2 linked regions of the Homo sapiens genome follow. The protein of the gene in region 1 purifies or fractionates together with the protein of each later gene. This does not show direct contact. Each region holds a gene or a part of one and is shown in the gene's direction. Other genes may lie near its edges.

Region 1 (2,191 bases):
CCCAGGGAACCCTCAGCTCAAGGTGCCCCCAAATTCTAACTTTCCAAGAAAGTGTCAGGAGGGCTCTGGGGTCAGCCTGGGTGTTAATCCCAGCTCTGCTGCTTGCTGGCCCCATGACCTTGGTATGGTTACTTCACTTCTCTGAGCCTCACTTTTCCTGTTTGTGAAATGGGGACAATGGCAGCATCCACCGCATAGGGTTGTTACGAAGGTCAAGGTCGTCACGTGCACGCCTGGCACCATGCCTGTGCGTAGTTCTCAAGTTAGAGTGACGACTGGGTTACGGATGCTGAGCGTATTAAAATGAACCAACGTGAATATGGTGTGTGTGGGAGGGTGGCGGCTTGTCACCCACCCAGGACGGCCTGTCTCCCTGGAGAGAAACTGCGGAGGGAACTGGGAAGGCCTTGGGGCCCAAGGGTATGCAGAAGGACCCAGGCTCCTGCTGAGGCTCTCCTCTCCCGGGACAGGCGGTGGAGGGCAGCGTCCTGGTCAGCTCCTCCTCTGACCATTCCTTGACCGTCTGGAAGGAGCTGGAGCAGAAGCCCACCCATCACTACAAGTCAGCATCCGACCCCATCCACACCTTTGACCTGTACGGCAGCGAGGTGGTCACTGGCACCGTGTCCAACAAGATTGGCGTCTGCTCCCTGCTTGAGCCACCCTCGCAGGCCACCACGAAGCTCAGCTCTGAGAACTTCCGCGGCACGCTCACCAGCCTGGCCTTGCTGCCCACTAAACGCCACCTCCTGCTGGGCTCAGACAACGGGGTTATCCGCCTCCTGGCATAGACTGAGGCAGGAGCTGGCCGGGCAAGGGTGGGAAGACATCTGCGGGCGCGTGTCCACTCACCCTGTTCCCTGAGCAGCAGCTCCCTCCAGGGAGGCCCTGGGTCCCACGCCCTGGGTGCCCACATGGCCTGCCAACTAGGGCCTGCAAATGGAGTGGGGGAGTCCTGGCCCCTGAATCACCAGAGCCACCAAGCCTGCCAGAGGGGTCTCATTCATGGCTTGGGGACACAGGGCTCCTAGCAAGCAGGAAGTTAAGAGCAGGAGGAAGCGTTGCTACCTTCACTTCTCCCCAGCTCTGCCCTCTGGGTCCACATGAGGACAGGGAAGCTCGGGAAGGGGAAGGGAGACTGGCCCTGCCCAGCCGGTCTCTAGCCCCTCAGCCCCCGCTGGGCACTCTCTGTCCCATCCCTCTAGGACAGGGAAGCTGGCCTGGTCCAGGGCACTGATGGTGCTTGGATTCCAGCCTAAGGAAGGCTGGCCGTGGTCCAGGAGTTAAGGGCTTGGGTCTGGGGTTTAAGTGGCCACCCATCCAGGCCCTGGCCAGTGTGGGACCGGGACGGGAAGGAAGAAGGAGGCTAGGAGCAGGGGGAAAAGGTGCACTTGGCCAGTGGCGCCTGCCAGGAGTGAGTCCATGCGTTGTCTGCCCACCCCTACCACAGTGTTTGTGCCTTCAGCTGAGGGGGCAGCCTCTGGGCCCTGAACCCCTGCTGGGGCTCCACGACCCTGAGAGAAGGGGTGAGAAGAATCATCTCTGCACCTCGGGTCTCTGCCAGAGGAAGACTTAAGCATCCCTGCGACCTCACATTCTAGACAGAGATGAGGTCCAGGGGTTGGCCCCTGCTGCCTTCTCACAATTTGCAATAGATGTAAATAGGACCAATAAATCCTTTGGAAGAGCCATGGGGTGAACTGAGGCTTGTCTTTTTTTTTTTTTTCAATAGAGATGGAGTCTGACTATGTTGCCCAAGCTGGTCTCCAACTCCTGGGCTCAAGCGATCCTCCTGCCTCGGCCTCCCAAAGTGTTGGGATTACAGGCATGAGCCACCACGCCCAGCCTGAGGCTTATCTTGCTGGTGGTGTCAGGGTGGGGAAAGTCGAGACCCAGCAGTTTCCAGGACAGTGAGGGTGGGAAGGGGCCTGATGGAGGGAGTGAGGAGCAGGACAGTGAGGGTAGGAGGCGGCCTGATGCAGGGAGTGAGGCGCAGGACAGTGAGGGTGGGAAGGAGCCTGATGCAGGGAGTGAGGCGCAGGACAGTGAGGGTGGGAAGGAGCCTGATGCAGGGAGTGAGGCGCAGGACAGTGAGGGTGGGAAGGAGCCTGATGCAGGGAGTGAGGCGCAGGACAGTGAGGGTGGGAAGGAGCCTGATGCAGGGAGTGAGGCGCAGGACAGTGAGGGTGGG
Region 2 (3,500 bases), on another chromosome or scaffold:
CAGGCCATGGGCTTGTGCTCATTTGCTTGTCCCTTTGTTAAGTGGCCCCAAGCCTGCTGTAGTTGGCAGACCTGTGTCTGCTTTGTTAGATAACTTTTCTGTCTCCCCGTTGTCTGGCTGTGGCTTCTCACTGAGGTCAGCATGGTGGTCATCCATAGCATCATTTCTCAGACTTTAACGTACCTGTTAAAATTTAATTTTAAACTCCCCAGGGATCTTGTCCAAATGCCAATTCAGGCTCAGTACATGTGGAGTAGAGTCAGGATTCTGCTTTTCGAGCAAGTTCCCAGGTGAGACTGATGCTGCTGATCCTCAGACCATATATATCTGAATGTTTCGTTTCATGAGTTCCTTATCCATAATATGTAAAGTGCATTCAGCATTAAGAAGGCATTTGGGGCACAACTCCCCATTGCAGTGGGACTTCGTCAGTAGCCCCTTGCCAGGCCTGGGATGTGTGGCTTGAAGGTGGAGTCAGAGTGCTATATGGCATCCACTTGGGGCCTGCACTCTGGTTGTGACCTCAGTCCTGAGAGACAATGGGCCCCAGGCTCAGCCCTGGACCAGCACCCCGTCTGGCCCAGCAAGGGGCTCAAGAGCAAGCTCAGAGGGTTGCTGGAGCAGGTGAGACACTCATGGGTAGGACCCAAGTGGTCTGTCTCTGAGCCTCCCGCACTGGCCTGGGCTGGGCACGGAATGGCGCTAGCCAAGCGCTAGCTCAGTTGGGATGGAAGGGCTGCAGGATGAGTGATTTGGGGATCTAGGAAGGCATCCGTGTACAGCTCCCTGGGAGAGGCAGCATCCAAGGTGGTCTAGGGGAGAATTCACAGGAGCAGAGTGACAGCAGACCTGGGCCTGAACTGGCTGTATGGCTCTTGCTGCTTGACTGGTCCAGTTATCTGACCCCACATCCACCTCCCACGATCCTGGCCTGACACGGCCTGAGCTGAGGGCCACCAGTGCCCTGGGCTGTCATCTTCTTCTGCTGGGGACAGAGCCCTACACATCCAGGCAGAGCCTCTGTGTGCTCTTCTGGGTAACAGGACGAATCTGTGCTTCTGCTTCTGCTTCAGATGAGGCAGTGCCTCCAGTGATAACACACTGGCTGTGCTCAGCATTTTTTTTTTTTTTTTTTTTTGGAGACATGGTCTTGCTCTGTCGCCCAGGCTGGAGTGCAGTGGGACGATCATGGCTCACTGAAGCCTCAAACTCCTGGGCTCAAGTGATTCCTCCACCTCAGTCTCCCAAATAGCGGGACTACAGGCGTGCACCACTGTCCCTGGCTGTGCCCATCTTAATGATGTGACATGACCCAGTAGAATGCTTCCTGAGCTCTTACATGTGCCGGGCCTGGTACCAACACCTTACATACTTTAGCTCATTTAATCCCATCACAACCCAATTAAGAAGGTGTTATTATTATTCCCTTTTTACAGATGGGGAAACCGAGGCTCAGAGGGATTTGGTCACTCCTCCAGGGTCACACAGGCTGTCCACAGTCTGGCTCCGGGGCCCTCCTGCTTATCCTGCACCCACAGTGATTGCTGTGTGTGTTTTCTTCAGGAGAATCCCTTCAAAGAAAGGATCGTGGCGGCGTTTTCCGAGGATGGTGAGGGGAACCTCACTTTCAACGACTTTGTGGACATGTTTTCCGTGCTCTGCGAGTCGGCTCCCCGAGAGCTCAAGGCAAACTATGCCTTCAAGATCTATGGTAACCAGGGCTAGAGGAGGGGGCCTGAATATGCGGTGGGGGAACATGTGGGGCCCTTAGGCTGTCTGGTTACTACTGGCTCCTGCCCTAGGGACACCAAGAACAGTGAAGCTGATCTGTCCTCTGAAGAGTGCCTGTCCAGTGGGGTGGCCAAGGGAGACGATCAGTCCCTGAGAGACATCTGTGAGGGTCCTGAGAACGAAGGAGGGAGGGACTCACCCATCCCAGGTCGGGTGGTTAGTGTGAGAGGGGTCCCAGGCATGACCTTTAAGCAGGGACTAGCAGAGGCTTGGACTGGAGAAGAGGGGGCTGGCAGACCTGACAGAGGGCGCAGCCCATGCAGACACAGGGAAGCGCAGAGCTTGATAAGGAGATGGGAGGAACTTGGAAGGTGGTGGGACAGGGGGCGGTATGAGTCTGGAGAGAATCTGGGGCCAGGCTGTGGGAGCCAGCCACAGAGTTTGGACCTAGTGATCCAGACACCAGGGCCACTGCAAGGTTTCCAGTGAGGAAGGGCAGCTCTGTTTTCTAGAAGGATCACTCAGCAGCTTTGAGGTGTAAAATGGAGGAGCCAGAGAGGCTGCCTAGGCCATGGTGGTAAGGCCAGGCCTGCAGGGGGGCCTCTGGAGCCCCCCCGAATACTGCCTGAGGTAGGGCCACCTGGATTCACCCCGCCCAGCTCTGCCCTCAGGCTGGCTGTCTCACCAGCCACCAGAGGGCGGCGGGCACTCATGAGCCAAGGACTCATGCTTCTCCCACAGCCACAGGGAGAAAACTTCATACCCACGAGCTCACCCCCTCTGCTGGCCTGACAGACCCATGGGGACTGGTGTCAAATCCTCAGATAGACCTCAGTTGAGATGCCTAAGGCCTAGGAAGGGGCTGGGACCCAACTTGGACCTGAAGAGTCAAGGTCAAAGCTCCTGTCCTCAGCACGTTTGATCAGACACTGGATCCCAAAGGCAGCAGGGCCTATCAGGGGCTGACATTTTGCTTTCTTTTTTCTTTTCTTTTCTTTTTTTTTTTTTTTTTTGAGACAGAGTCCCACTGTCGCCCAGGCTGGAGTGCAATCGTGTGATCTCGGCTCACTGCAACCTCTGCCTCCCGGGTTCAAGCGATTCTCTTGCCTCAGCCTCCCAAGTTCAAACGATTCTCCTGCCTCAGCCTCCTGAGTAGCTGAGATTACAGGTGCCCGCCACTACACCTGGCTAATTTTTGTAATTTTAGTAGAGATGGGGTTTCACCATGTTGGTCAGGCTGGTCTCGAACTCCCGACCTCAGGTGATCTGCCTGCCTTGGCCTCCCAAAGTGCTGTGATTACAGGTGTGAGCCACCACGCCCAGACTGACGTTTCACTTTCTAGTTATCATGTTTATTTCAGAGGACTTTGGTTTCTGTCTGTGCACCCACGTTTTGCTTGCATATTAGAAAGAAAATACCTGCCAGTCTGCCCTCCACAAACTATGCCCACATGGCTCATGTAAAAAGCTTCTCAGATTCCACCCAACATCCGCCCGGTCTTGGACCCCATAGCATTGCTCCTGGGACGGGCTGCTGTCTGCCCAAGACAGGGGCGTGCAGATCGCATGGACCGGGTGGGCACAGGAATACATGGAAGAACTGTGGCTTCCTTGCTGCTCTAGGCTGGGGGTGGAGTGGGGAGAGGCAGCCAGGGCCCTCCTAGTCTGGCGCTGGGGAGGCCTGGGGCCTCATTTGCAACAATGATCATCTCACTTCTGAGCCTCAGTTTACTCAGGTTAAATGGCCACAGGAATTCAGCCAGCCAGCC

The links. Proteins that work in one complex are often made in the same cells at the same time.
Region 2: the proteins of WDR81 (region 1) and CIB2 purify together in Homo sapiens (co-immunoprecipitation; one large-scale study listed by IntAct). This does not show direct contact.

Annotation. Positions count from the first base shown.
Region 1 is NC_000017.11:1,736,895-1,739,085, forward strand, and holds the end of WDR81 (WD repeat-containing protein 81), read left to right. Parts: intron 1-470; coding exon 471-791; 3' UTR 792-1,691; downstream 1,692-2,191. UniProt on the Homo sapiens protein: Functions as a negative regulator of the PI3 kinase/PI3K activity associated with endosomal membranes via BECN1, a core subunit of the PI3K complex.
Region 2 is NC_000015.10:78,107,446-78,110,945, reverse strand, and holds part of CIB2 (calcium and integrin-binding family member 2), read left to right. Parts: intron 1-1,436; coding exon of another isoform or gene 1,437-1,563; coding exon 1,564-1,711; intron 1,712-3,500. UniProt on the Homo sapiens protein: Calcium- and integrin-binding protein that plays a role in intracellular calcium homeostasis. Acts as an auxiliary subunit of the sensory mechanoelectrical transduction (MET) channel in hair cells.